2 linked regions of the Homo sapiens genome follow. The protein of the gene in region 1 interacts with the protein of each later gene in a biochemical or structural test. Each region holds a gene or a part of one and is shown on either strand. Other genes may lie near its edges.

Region 1 (7,022 bases):
CAATTAGAGCCATGAGCACCATAAAGAAATTAGAAAAGGCAAAGAGACAATACTTAGATTGATTAGAAGGCACTGGGACAAGTACCTTAATGAAATGAAGCTGGCTGTACTAACACCTGGAGGAAAAACAGTCCAGGCAGAAGGAATAGCAAACACCAGAATGACTGGCTTGTTCAAGTAATATCAGGGCCAGTGTGGCTGTAATCAACAGACATTAAAAAAGACCATCAAGAGGTATACAGGGGTAAGTCTATGTAGAATATTAGAGACCATGAAAAGAGCTTCAATTTTATTCTCAATGAAATGGAAAGCACTAAACAGTTTTAAGCAAGGGAACAGTGACTTAATTTAGTATCACTTAAACTTTAAAATTAGCCTGGCTGCTGTGTGGAAAAAGAACTTGACTAAAGAGGAACAAGAACAGATGGAATGAAGGAGATCAACAATAGGCTACACAGATGATAAGGGTTGTTTATGGTGGCTTGGATTAGGGTGTTAATGGGGGAAATGATTAATAAAAGGTGAGATTTTGAAAATTTTTTGAAGGTAGATTATAGATTTGCTGATAAGACTGTAAAGGGGAAGTGGGAAAAGTAAGGAATCAAGGCTAATTTATAAATTTTGATAGAGCCATAAACTGAAATGAGAATAAAAAACTCACACAGAGTTTGTTTTTTAAAAAAGATACAAAGCTTAAAATGAAGATGCAAATACATTAAGGAAGTTATGTCTTTCTATTCCAAGTACTAAAATACATATCTGGCACATTGTAAATTTTCTCCCTTCATTCAAGTCCATGATTAGACCTACATGCATAATGGTACACACCATGTGAAGAATTATTTCAATTGTTACATTAAAAATATCAAAGATGGGCACTACTGTTACCAAATGAAATCTTACAGCTTAACAGCACTATAGCAAGTGGTTCCACATACTCACCATTTTATGGAGATCAGTGTCAGGATAGTTCAGGTAATTCAGAAATTAAGTAAGTTGGAAGTGTGCAATGCTTTAGAAGAGGCAATCACGAAATGATATGTGTCACTGAATCATCATGGGAATAAAAAGCAACACTAATTCAACAGGGACCCTTAAGTATCCACTGTTTTTCTGAGTTTATGATGGAAACAGATATTTTAACAGATGCTACTTAGATGTGAACTTTGTATATGCAGTTGTGTATAAGACATAAACCTATGTTCAAGTACTATCTACAGGACACACACACACATATATATGTACATACTGACACATAATGGTCAAGAAGGCTGTTCAGTATTCAATAATAAACCAGTGTTCAACGGTAGTCATATCTATTAGTTGGGATTACAGTAGCTTTTTTATCCTTTTTACTCATCTGTATTTTGCTATTTTTCTACTCTAAATTTGCATCATTGGCCCAAACAAGCAAATTAGTAAATGCATTTGAAATCAATTTTAAAACCATACTACACATAACCTAGGTATATGAGGCATAAGGACAAAATGTTTACAAGACAACAGCCATGCTCATAAGGGCAAAAATATCCAAGAATTTTGAAGTAGAAATGTCCACACACAGACACATAATATGTTCTAAGATGCAAGACTATATTTTTGAAATGCTGTATCAGAAAAAAAAGGGATGGTACTTTATTCCTTATAATTTAAAAACTATGTTGGCAAGAGATATACATTCTTAGTTAATGCCATTTTCCTTTTACCTGTTTTCTCTCTTTAGGATTGAGAAGTAAGTACCGGGGATCAAAAACTATCTTGTGCAACTCCTTCTCCCACGTTGAAAAAGCAGACACCTTTAAAATAAAAACGTATTGCCTCATAATTAAGTCTCCTCTAAAAATATAAAGGTCATAATTTTGCTTGAAATCTACAGGATATCTGTTTATAAAGGAGACATAAAACCATACTGAAGTTTCCATCACTAATAAATGACAAGCAGTGGGAGGCTAGCAATAGCAAATTTCCACACTAATTGGCTCTGAACATTCCTATATTATATAGAAATAACAGACACTTAATTACTCATTAAAATAACTACTACTGTGTGACATTTTAAAAATCAGTACATCAGAAAAAGCCTTGAAGATTTATATTTTGATTTCTCATGCTTGCTCCAATCTTGTGAACAATGTTGTGATTTAAAATTGAACAATTTTACTTATTCAAATGAATCTGTGAATATAACCAAATAGTTGAAATCCCTTCTCAATTAAATTGCAAATAATAATATCACAAAGTATCAGTTCTCCTTTAACAAAAGCCATTCTCAAGATATTAAAGGAAGAATAATCATATATACCTTACCTATCCCAAGCAGTCCGCCATTCTGTAATGTTAATACTCGTCTTATATTACTCACCACAATTTAATGACCCAATAAATGTTAAGTGTTATTTGTACTTAAAAGGACAGTAAAATGGCATTTAGTTAAATATGATAAGATTAGCCAAGAAAAAGGCTGTTGCAAAAAATGTACAGTAATTTTAAAAATCCCCTTATCCCCCCCCATAACATGAGCACTAACCTTAGATTTGACCTTTTAGCAAGACATATTTATATTACTTATACAAAACAGAAATATCTCCCCCAAAGATTGTTTTCTGACCCCTCTCTCTAGCAGCATGTCCTTGAACTGCTTCATTCGAGCCTCCAGAGGGACAATGGCCCTTTCTCGGGCAGCTTTAATTTCAGCTTCCATGGCAGCTTCTTTCTCTGAGTCAATGTCTTTATTATCGTCTCTCCTATAAAAAATAAAATATAAGACATCAACTGACAAAATATTAATTCTCAGATCTTATTAGAAATCTTAAAATCAAAGGAATTTTCAAGACTCACTACTGAGCAGCATATTTTTGGCAAAAACAAATTATATTGAGGGTTTCAAATGAACTCTAAGGGATAAATAACTTTCATAATAACAAAATTAAAATGGGCTTCTAATGATTTACAATGGCTACATTATTAGGAAAAAAATACACCTTTAATGGGCTGTCTCTCCCTGACACTGGTTAATAACATAAAAAGGGAGCAACCTTACTTAAAAAAAAAAAAGTTTAACACTGCAGTAAACCTCTATGTGTCAGAATCAAACAGCACAAAATATAATTTTTTTAGTTCTTGAAATATAGAAAAAACAGTATTTTCCAAAATGTTTTACATTATAAACACATAAAATATTTTGTAAAATCTAATAAAAATTGGTATTAAGTGGTATAATGTTTTAGTAATCTCAAACATTCATTTTAAAAATAAAACTAAAATATCTGCAATCTTGGCCAAGTGAATATGTAAGATATATACCTTACCTACCTGACTTTTTATTACTCACTTTCTGGGTGATAAGTTGAGATTTAAGTTGAAGGACAGGTCCCAGAGAGCAACATGGGCCCAGGAGTAGTTAGGTGGAATTAGAACTGTTCATCAATGACTAAACTACTTCTTGTTCCTCCAAAAATGCACCTCAGGTGTAAGGGCAACCCTGTTTCTGTGTGGTACTCAAGTGAAATTGTAAACATGGAATCACGGCACCTCTCAAATATATGCACTATGAAAAAGGCCCATTCACGTAAATAATCCAAAAAAGTATGTAATTCAATAATATCTGGGTGTATTTTAGCAGATCTTCCTTCTTAAATATGATCTGCTAAGTATATTTTAAAAATTGGCTCTTATTCCCTATACAAACTTAAGGGAATTAGGAAAACAGAACATGTGGAAATTCAAAAGCATGCTATACAGGAAACTGTAGGTAGCCCCAGAGATTTAAATGGAACTAAGGCTAACCCACAAATGCAAGTGAGAGGTACTTAGCAACTTAGGCAATGAATCAAAAGAAATAGAAGACATAGTCCGTGACCTGCAGGAACTTAGCGAGATAGTCTGTGACCTAAGATATGCACAAAACAAACAGGTAAAAGCAATTTGCCAAACAATATACCCTCTTATAATAATAATTTTAAAACTATTTAAATAGTTAGAGTTAAAAGACATCCAAGAAGTAACTAATAAAAACAAATAACCTTTATAGAACTATACTAAATGAAAATGTCACAATACAAACTATCACTATCTATCTCAATAAAGGAAATAAAAGAAAAACTAAGCCAGGAAAAACAGGCTTTTAGCTTTGTACCTAAATAGAGAAGCTCGGGCAATCCACATAAAGGACTTCTTTGACATTCTCCTGATAAAAGCAGTTAAAAACCTTACAGAGTTGTCTATAAGAACAAACAATTAAAAACAACCTAAAAGTTTAACATCGTAGGAACATCCAAAATTATGGTACATAAACAGAATGAATACAGTCATTTATAATAATTAACAAAACAAATGTCTTATTCTAGGTTTTTTTTTTTTAAAAAAAAAGCACAAAATCAGTTAATCACAACTAATAAAAATTACATTTGGTCAAGAACTAAAAAGTCAATTGCAAAAATGAGAATAGCTATGTTACGCTGATAAATTATGAGTGATTCTTTCATATCTTTTATGTTGTTGCCAATAAAGAAATTTTTTTTAAAAGAACTACCCTTTATAGGGGTTGTCCTACTGATTTCTTTGCCATAATTTGGCTGCATTCAATCTGTCCTTTTCAGATAAGGACTACAATTAACCAGTTCCTGTTAATGTCTTCAAACTTTCCTTTTTGCTGCTAAATAATGGTCCCATTCCCCATACATGCATACCCTCTACCCCATCCTTCCCCCCGCCATAACATTTACATTTTACCCAACTCTAGAGCACTGGCCAAGCTAATGCCTCTACTTCTTAGCAGTCTCTTTCTCGCAGAGCACTTCCTAAGCTTATGGGTTCTCTCCTCACCAAGGAGTTAATGACCAGACTCAAGGACTAGGTAAGTCGTAAGATAACCATATAAAGAGGGAGAAGTCTGTGTCTGTTTTTATGAGATCTCTGGAATGGTATCCATTGGGGTCTAAATGAGGGAGGAAACTAACTTTTCATAAAATTGAGACCTAATAAATTTCCAAAAAGAATTAATTCCAAAACTATCATTTGGAGTCATAATACATATATGAATACCCAAATCTTCTACAAATCTAGCAAAAGAAGGGACACATTTTCTACAATGAAAAACAAAGCTATTTATTATCAGGCCTAAGAGAGCAATCATGCCTCCTAACAACATTCACATTACCTGTCCCTTCCAATCACAAATTATTACCAAATCGACTTTTAAAAGATATAATCTACCTCAATCAAATCGTATGTATTACTTACTTCCGTTTTTTTGCTTTAACAGGCTCATCTTCATTAATTTCTTCCATTAATTCTTGTTCCTCTTTAACTATAAGACAAAATTTAATTAAAATATTTAGGAATGAATCCTTCTGCTAATCACTACCAGAACACTTGCTTTAATAGTATTAAAAAGAAGCTGCAATTTATGGTTAGTTCACTCACTTGCACTCATAGAGAATTGCCACTTTTGGATCGACAGCATTGTCGGAGTTGGGTGCCCTGGCAAAAACATTTCAAATATTGTTACAAAGTCATTTGCATATATTTCACAAACTTTTCTTTTTAAAAATTACTGTTTACATAATATATTCACCTCTTAATATTCATCCCTTTATAAAACATTAAACAAAGCATAATTCTACACTTCCTCTATTTATCCTCCCTTTACATTAAATTTAATTCATTTTGAAATGTTTCTTGCCCAAACCTTAAATTTACAAATATATAAAATAAAGCTTTCTTGATTCAGGATTTACAGTACCTTTTAACAATGCACGTTAATGTATTTATCAAATGAATGAATCAAATATTTAAAAACAAATTCACGAAAAACAAAAGAAAATCACATATTGTTTCAACATCATTCAATACCATAGTTATAAAGTATTATTATCATACCTATAAAACAAGTATTGCTGAAGGTGAGCCTAGTACCTTCAGCACTAGATAGGCAAAGCGGCACTGACTCAGAAATTACTTATAATTCAGCATATATATAATGCATGAAAATGTCTCAATGACTATAAATGATACACACTAGGATTTATTTCATTAGAAGCATTAAATAATTCATTTATCTTGCTTCTATACCACTTGCGGGCCACAGTTCTATAAAAACACAATCATATCAACACAAGGGCAAATTACCAATAAGAAATACACAACAAAAATTACGTACAAATATCTGTACTCAATATATTAGTATGCCCTCTGAATATGAGATAGATTAAAAGATAATCTCTTAGTAAGGTTTAGGTGTCTAGTCTCAGGAATATAAGGAGCTTACCATCTAATTCAAAAGATTGAGATTTTGTATTTTTAAAAAATTTGTAATGTATTATTTCAAGAAATATATTACTAGTCACAAAAGGTGCTAAAAGGCCCACCGAGGAGCATTTTAGTAGTATTGATAAGCACTAAGCAAGCAGCAACACTACCAACCATATCTTGGACTAACTGAAAATCTTGAGTAGGACAATAAATTAAAGACACACATATTTTACAAAGCACAATCTTATCCAAATTCTCTCCATATTTTTAATCTCTATTATTTCATTCAAACTAGGATAGCAGTCTATTTTTTTCGAATGCTTCTTATATTCTTTGAAAAATAAAGGGTTTCTAAATGCCTTCCACATTTTCTATCAAAATATGAAAAGAATGTTAAAATCAGTGGATAAATTCCTAATTTAAAACTTACTTAGTTTCTTCAATTCCTCCATTCCTTTTTTATGAGGGGGCTCCTGAATAATTTTGTCAACATCTGCCCTGCCAATCAGATCATCAGGTCGGTCCCACATAGAAAGACGAGTGGTGGGATTATAAAAGAAGACCCGCTCATCACCAGTCCAAACGACACACCTAAGAATTGATGCAAAATATCATTCTCTTATGTTACAGAACATATTTTACAGCTAGGACTTCTTTCAGCCTGTTACAAGTAGGGAGATGAGGGTACTGAAGAACGACATGTTCTTATTACCAATAGTTATTTACAGAGAACCAAACATGGTTTTTACAAGATAACTGAATGACTCAAG
Region 2 (7,344 bases), on another chromosome or scaffold:
CCCCGCTGGCTGGTGTTCCCACCATCACAGCAGGCCCGTGGGGCTGGGCAGCCATCGCTCCTCTGCTGTTGCTAAGGCAGCAGCCGGAAACCCTGGCTCAACCTGCTCTTTCTCTCCACCCCCATTTTAAGCAGGGGGCACCCCTTTCTTTCACAGCTTTCTTGGAAAGGTAGCCCCCCACCACCCACCCTTGCATGGGAGAAGGGCTCCCTGCACCTCCTGTCTGGCTGTAAGTGGGGACACCCCTCACCCACAAGAGAGGTCCTACAGCCAGGAGAGGAAGGAGAGTTTGGGGTATCAGGATCCTATGCCCCACCAGGGACAAAAGGGGAAGGAAGAGGTTCCCTGGGGCCGCTGGACTACATCCCTGAGGGCAGGACTGTGCTTCTCCCATTGAGACTGGGGACCACTGATGGCGGTGGGCCCCTCCCCTCAGCAATCTAAGGTTCTTCTCCTCTTAGACACTGACCGAGGACAGGACTCAGCTCTGGCCATGGTGGTTCGGGTGGGGGTTCACATAGCGACCAACTCTGCGATACACACTGCCAGACCTGAGGGTTGAACCAACTCTTTAGCCCTGGGCAGCCTCAGGCAGAGGTCAAGGTTGTCACCCTGGGGCAAGCCTCATGCCCCTGCTGGTGGGGAATGAGAGGAACCAGGGTCTTAGCCAAGTGTCCTTAGATTGGGTTTAACCTGCCCACAACAGGATATAAGACAGGCTGAGCCACCCCGGGAAGAAGGTATAAACACACTGGGGTTCCTGGGCACCTGGTAGGGGGTAAGCCCTGGTGGGTGCTGCTACCCTAAATTTCTGCTAGGCACCTCCACTTTCTCCACCAGCACACCCTCTCTGACCCACCTGTGGGTGTCCCCCCTCCACATCCTGGTACTCAGGGACTCCCAGTGGCATTTAGTGTCAGACTCAGCCAATCACAGCCACAAATCCAAGCAGGGCAAACAAGTCCTACACACACATCAGAACCTCACCATTTGACTTGTGGATTTTCCCCTGGTCTGAATTATTCACAGGGCTCCTCCCCATCAGCGTGCTAAACAGAAGATTGGGGTCAGGACCTCACCCCAAGAGCCCACACCCGCGACCATAGACACACACTTGGCGGAAAGACAGACCCATGTCCCTCCAACCAGGTTGGCAGGGGTCCAAGGACCCACCACCAATGCAGGCTCTCCAGATGGCCCCCAGAGACTGTGTCTCCTCATTCTCCCCCCTCCCCCATCTGCTCAGCTCAGCTCAGCTTTGTGAAGTCCTATGCTTGGGGAGCGGGGAGCAGGGCAGGTGGAGAGATGGAGAAGTCAGGGGCCAGCCTGGTGTGAGGCGTCCCTCAGTGTCCCTGCCCTCCTCTAATCAAGCAAGGTGTCTTCACAAGGATGGATCCCTCGCCACCCCATAGCTCCTCCAAACTCCCCCCAGCCTTCTCTTGGGAGAGGACAGAAGCCAACATTTTCAGGAACTGTTAGGAGGTGACCCTCTGGAGCCATGCTGAGGATCTAGCACGTATGGCCTAATGACCAGCCAGGCGAGGGGAAATGATGTCAAGGAGATGGAGGGCCACCAACTGAGCCAGAACCCTCTGCGGCCTGTGTCTCCGTTGAGCCCCCACCCTCAGACCTGCAGGGACTGGGAAATGCATCTGGGAGAAGGCACAGCCTCATTTTGCCTGTCACCCAGCGTCCAGCAAGGGAAGGCTGACAGCAGGCAGGCCACCAGGCAATTAGTTAGAGGAGGGAGCCAGGGCCAGGGCGTCGGGGGTGGGGAGAGTGAGAGTGAGCAGCTCTTCCTCTCCCTACTTCTGCCTTATGCAGGGTCTTGGAGACCCCTGAGTCTGCTCTGGAGCCCCCACCCCACTGAACATGTTGACTGTTTCCAGGCTCGGCCTGAGCTGCTGGTTCCCTCCCAGAGACCTATTCCCCAGCGACCCCGCTCCAATTCCCCAGGTAGGCACAGAGGGGGGTGGTTCCAGATTTTGCTCCACCCCTAGCCTGGGCGACCCACCCGTCCTGACCCCACCCTCCCTCATCTTACTCCCTTCAGTGGCTTGGAAAGGATGCCCCAAGATAAAGACCCACAGGCACCCTGGCTCTGACATATGGCGGGGTAGAAACACAGATACCTCCTGGCCATGATCCGACAACCCCATTCCCCGCAGCCCAGGCGCCCAACAAATCAGGACCCAACACCTCCAGCAGGTCTCCCGCTCCCGGGAGGTTGTAACCCTTTCATCTTTGACTCCAGACACAGAAAGGCAGATGCCCCAGACCCGCGCCCGGTGGCTGGGCCTGCGTGCAGTGGGGAAGGGGGCGACCCGGGACCCCTGTGCGTGCCCCGCTCCCAACTTCTTCACAGGACATACTTGTTTAGACCTTAAGACCCAGCTGGGGTGGAGGCGTCTTAGGGAGGGAGACCGGGCGATAACTGAAGAAAGTTTTGGGGGGAGAGTGCTAAGTCACTCTGAAAAAAAGGCCACTGTCGCTCCCACCTCCTGGAGGGGGCAGCTGCCGGACCGGGGATCTCCAAGCGGCACCTGAGTCCCCGGGGGCGGGGACGCGCGCCCAGCCCCTGCCGCGCCCCTGCCGCCCCCCGCCCGCGCCCGACCCGCCTCCGGGTCGCACTCACCAGGGCGCGGTTGAACCTCTCCTCCAGCTCTCCGGCCGCGGGCATCGGCTGCTTGGGAGGCGCGGGCTGCTTGGGGGGCGGCGCGGCGGGGCCCGCGGGCTGCTCGGCGCTGCCGGCCGCGTTGCCCATGGTGGTCCCCACCCAGCCGGCCAGGCGCCTCCAGCCTCGGAAATCCAGCTTTCCGGGGGACGGGGACGAGGCTCCCGGCCCGGGCGGGGGCGAGGGGGCAGCGGCTGGCGGTGGCGGCGGGGGTCTCGGCAGCGGGGGGCGCTCGGCTCAGCGGCGCGCAGGGGCCGGAGCGCGGCGTCCCATCGGGGCGGCCCCGTCCGTGGGACCGGGCGGCGAGCTGCAGGGTTGGGGGAGGAAGTCAGGCTGCAGGCCGCCGGGGCCAGAGGGCTGGGCCGGGGGCAGGAAGCTGCGGCGCTGGCTCCCCCCTCGGCGATTTTCGAACTTCTGCTGTCGCTCCCCGTGCGCGCAAACCGCAGTTCGCCGCCGCCGCCGCCGGGCACCCAGCCCCAGGGGGGCGGGCTGGAGGGAGGGGGCGGGCGCTGGCCGGGGGACCCCCGCAACCATGGCGGGCGGGGAGTGGGCTGCCGAGCCGCTTCACCTGCCGCAGAGGGGGCGGCCGGCGCCGCTTCACCTGCCGGAGCGGGAGGCCACCGAGGCGAGGCCGAGGCGGCGGCGCGCTCGGCGGCGCCTCCGGGTCCTAGAACCGCATCCTCCCGCTCGCCTCGGGCGAGGGATTGGCCGGGTCTGGGTGAAGGGGATCACGGCCTGGGGATTGGAGGGGCACATCTTCTCCGCACCGAGGATCTCAGCGACTGCGAGCACGGCTCGGAGACCCACGGTGGTGCAGCGTTGGGGCGCCAGGGCTGCGTTCCCGTCTCGCGTCCCGGACTGAGAAGGTGGGAACCCCCTTCCAGGCCCCCCACCTTTTATTTCTCTCCTCCCCTGCTTAGCCCAGAGACGAGCTGAGGACGAGGGGGAGCCATCTCCAAACAGGAACTCCTAAACAGGGTGGGGGGCGCGGACGCAGGCCAGTGGAGACCCCCGCCACCTGTCCCACCTCGACCAACCGTGCGCCTGTGCAGGGCACCCCTACAGGTTTTAGAATGGGGGCACCTATGGAATATGGCAGGCTGCGAGAAGCTGGGCCCGCCAAGGTGGTCCCAAGGAGGAGTGGGGGGTTGCGGAAAGGAGGATGAGAGCCAGCCACAAGGCTGGAAAAGGAGTGGGCACCGCAGAGGAGGGAAAAAGAATCTTGACACTGTCACCGCCAGGGATCTAGGGGGGCCTCTTACCTTGGAGAATAACAATCTCTGATGTCTGCTAATTACAGAAATACTTTCAGAGCTCTTTCATTCATCCTGACAATGGCCAGAGAAGGTAGGTATTGGTAGCCTTATTTTAGAGATGGGGAAACTGAGGCTGAGAGTAGGTAAGTAAGCTGTCCAAGGGCACTCAGCTAACAAAGGACAGAAGCAAGCCTCCTCACTGTCTACCTCCAAAACCTACACTGGCTTGGAGTTGCTGTCCTGGCCCTCCACTGCCCATCTCATGTAGGACGGGAGAGTATGGGGGGCTGGGGTCCCATCTATAGCCTGAATTTGAGACTTTCAGTTGCTCCTCTCATTCCCCATTTAATTTGTGGGGATCCCCAACTGACCCCTCCCTACACTTCCAGGGCACTGAGGAGGGAGGGCCCGCTGAAGGAGCCCCGAATTATCTCTAGGCCAGGTCAGGAGCCATTAGTGTCCCCTCCCCTGACAGCATCCTCCTCCTTCTGCCCTCACATTCAGAGCCACTGACAAGACTTTAAGCAAGAGACGGAGAGTTAACATCTAATCTGGAGGAAGACCCTGGAAGGAGCCAGCCCCTTCCCCCAGGCTGACCTGGTTTAAGCCTTTCTTCTGCCAAGGTCACCAGCACCCCAGATGGGTGAGAGATGTGATCACTGGTTTCGTGGCCTGACCAAGGACCTCCAAGGTGAGTCAAAGCAGAATTCTCCTTGGGCATGCAGGGAAAATGATCCATTCCCTGCACACTGCCATATTCTCCTTCTCAGACAGACCAGAGCCTTGCCCTTGGGTCCTTGCCCTTGAGATTAGCTAGGACCTCCTCCTCTTCTTCTCCTTCTTTCTTCTTCTTCTTGTCTCTATAAGATAACTGTCGTGGAAGACTTTTTTTTTTCTTTTAAGATGGAGTCTCTCGCTGTTGCCCAGGCTGGAGTGCAGTGGCTCGGTCTCAGCTCACTGCAACCTCCACCTCCCAGGTCCAAGCAATTATCCAGTCTCAGCCTCCTCAGTAGCTGGGACCACAGGTGCGTGCCACCACACCCAGCTCATTTTTGTATTTTTAGTAGAGACGGGGTTTTGCTATGTTGACCAAGCTGGTCTCGAACTCCTGACCTCAAGTGATCCGCCTGCCTCGGCCTCCCAAAGTGCTGGGATTACAGGCATGAGGCACCCCGTCCAGCCTGGAAGACTTTTTTTTTTAATGAATAAAAACACATTTTTTTAAAGAATGGATTCCCTGATTCCTCAATGGCTGTCTCTTTCAATTGAACAATAAACCTTTACTTAGCATCAGCTACATGCCCATCACTGTGCTTGGTCCTGCAGATTCTGTGGCAGATGAGAAATGCCTTGGTCCTTGGGCTGCTTGCAGCCTAGCGAGGGACAGACTTTTAACCTCTCTAGGAGAGTGGCTGCTTCAAGTCATCCTATGGGACCAGCTGTTCATGCTTCCTCTTGCCCAGAACTACTTCTGTGAGAGGAAAAGAGAAGGGTAGGAGCGTGCCCTGCAGCTGGAAACCCAAGCCAGGCGGGGAGCCACGAATGCAGTAGTTATCAGACTGTATCTTCAATCCTGGGGGCTTCTCAAGCCATTGCCAGCCACTCTTCACCCAAGGCCTGGTGGAATAAAGCTGGGCTAAGTAACACCTCTTCTGTGGAAAATTATTGTTTCTGCAAGCCTATATTCATTCTCCCTCTCTCTCATGCTGATCAGAACTGTGAGTTACAAAAAAAATGAGAAGATGGAATCAATTATTACGTAGTAAATTTCATTTGCTTGGCAGGAGGTATCTTTCCCATCTTGGCCCACAGAGGAGGAAATCCTAGAAGGGATGACTGAAGCTTGGGACTAACACATTGGTGGATCTGTGCTACCCCCTGCTGGCCGTAGACGGTATGACAGCCAAGATAGGGCAAGGCTTCGAGGGGCGATGGATGGATTCACCGCAGCGGCGACATTTCTGGACTGTTGTCACCTTCAGTGCAGTCACTGGGAATATTCAGAACCCAGGTGATTGATAAGGTTTTCCCAGGGATCTCTTCTCTCCCCTTCACCATTACTCAGTAGGAGCTTCCTTAAAAACGGAAAACGAGAGGCCGGGCGCGGTGGCTCACGCCTGTAATCCCAGCACTTTGGGAGGCGGAGGCGGGCGGATCACGAGGTCAGGAGATCGAGACCATCCTGGCTAACACAACCCCGTCTCTACTTAAAATACAAAAAATTAGCCGGGCGTGGTGGCACGCGCCTGTAGTTCCAGCTACTCAGGAGGCTGAGGCAGGAGAATCGCTTGAACCCGGGAGGCAGAGGAGGTTGCAGTGAGCTGAGATGGCGCCACTGCACTCCAGCCTGGCCGACTGAGACTCCATCTCAAAAAAAAAAAAAAAAAAAGGAAAAAGGGGCCGGGCGCGGTGGCTCACGTCTATAATCCTAGCACTTTGGGAGACCAAGGCGGGCAGATCACGAGGTCAGGAATTTGAGACTAGTGTGGCCAACATGGTGAAACCCCATCTCTACTAAAAATACAAAAAATTAGCCGGGTGTGGTGGCGCATGCCTGTAATCCTAGCTACTCGGGAGGCCGAGGCAGGAGAATCGCTTGAACCCAGGAGGCCGAGGTTGCAGTGAGCCGAGATCACGCCATTGCACTCCAGCCTGGGCGACAGAGCAAGACTCCGTCTTGAGGGAAAAAAAAAAAAAAAAGAAAAAGGGGCCAGGCACCTGTAATCCCAGCACTTTGGGAGGCTGAGGAGGGAAGATCGCTAAAACCCAGGAGTTCAAGACCAGCCTGGGCAACATGGTGAGACCCCATCTCTACAAAAAATGCAAAAAAAAAAAAAACAAAAACAAAAAAAAAAACAGCTGGGCATGATGGTGCGCACCTGTAGTCCCAGCTACTCGGGAGGCTGAGGTGGGAGGATTATTTGAGCCTGAGAGGTCAAGGCTGCAGTGAGCCAAGATCGCATCACTGCACTCTAGCCTGGGTAACAGAGCAAGACCCTGCCTCAAAAAAAAAAAAAAAAAAGGAAAAAGGTTATTACACAGTTCAAAAGAGAAACAAAGTGCAAAAGCATGTGCAAAGAAAGTAAAGTCCCTCCTGGCCAAGTGCGATGGCTCAAGCCTGTAATCTCAACACCCTGGGAGGCTGAAGTGGGTAGATCATTTGAGGTCTGGAGTTTGAGACCAGCCTGGCCAACATGGTGAAACCCCGTCTCTACTAAAAATATAAAAATTAGCTTGGCGTAGTGGCGGGTGCCTGTAATCCCAGGTACTCGGGAGGCTGAGGCAGGAGAATCACTTGAACTTGGGAGGCGGAGGGTGCCGCGAGCCAAGATCACGCCAGTGCACTCTAGCCTGGGCAACAGAGCAAGACTCCATCTCGAAGGAAGGAAGGAAGGAAGGAAGGAAGGAAGGAAG

Evidence for each region.
Region 2: the proteins of TCERG1 (region 1) and FMNL1 form a complex in vitro, tested with the Homo sapiens proteins (one study listed by BioGRID).

What each region holds. Positions count from the first base shown.
Region 1 is NC_000005.10:146,478,314-146,485,335, reverse strand, and holds part of TCERG1 (transcription elongation regulator 1), read right to left. Parts: intron 6,844-7,022; coding exon 6,683-6,843; intron 5,482-6,682; coding exon 5,425-5,481; intron 5,309-5,424; coding exon 5,242-5,308; exon of another isoform or gene 4,187-5,241; coding exon 4,136-4,186; exon of another isoform or gene 3,890-4,135; coding exon of another isoform or gene 3,766-3,889; exon of another isoform or gene 2,745-3,765; coding exon 2,609-2,744; exon of another isoform or gene 1,797-2,608; coding exon 1,707-1,796; intron 199-1,706; exon of another isoform or gene 86-198; intron 1-85. UniProt on the Homo sapiens protein: Transcription factor that binds RNA polymerase II and inhibits the elongation of transcripts from target promoters. Regulates transcription elongation in a TATA box-dependent manner.
Region 2 is NC_000017.11:45,217,545-45,224,888, reverse strand, and holds the start of FMNL1 (formin-like protein 1), read right to left. Parts: upstream 3,005-7,344; 5' UTR 2,765-3,004; coding exon 2,636-2,764; intron 1-2,635. UniProt on the Homo sapiens protein: May play a role in the control of cell motility and survival of macrophages. Plays a role in the regulation of cell morphology and cytoskeletal organization. Required in the cortical actin filament dynamics and cell shape.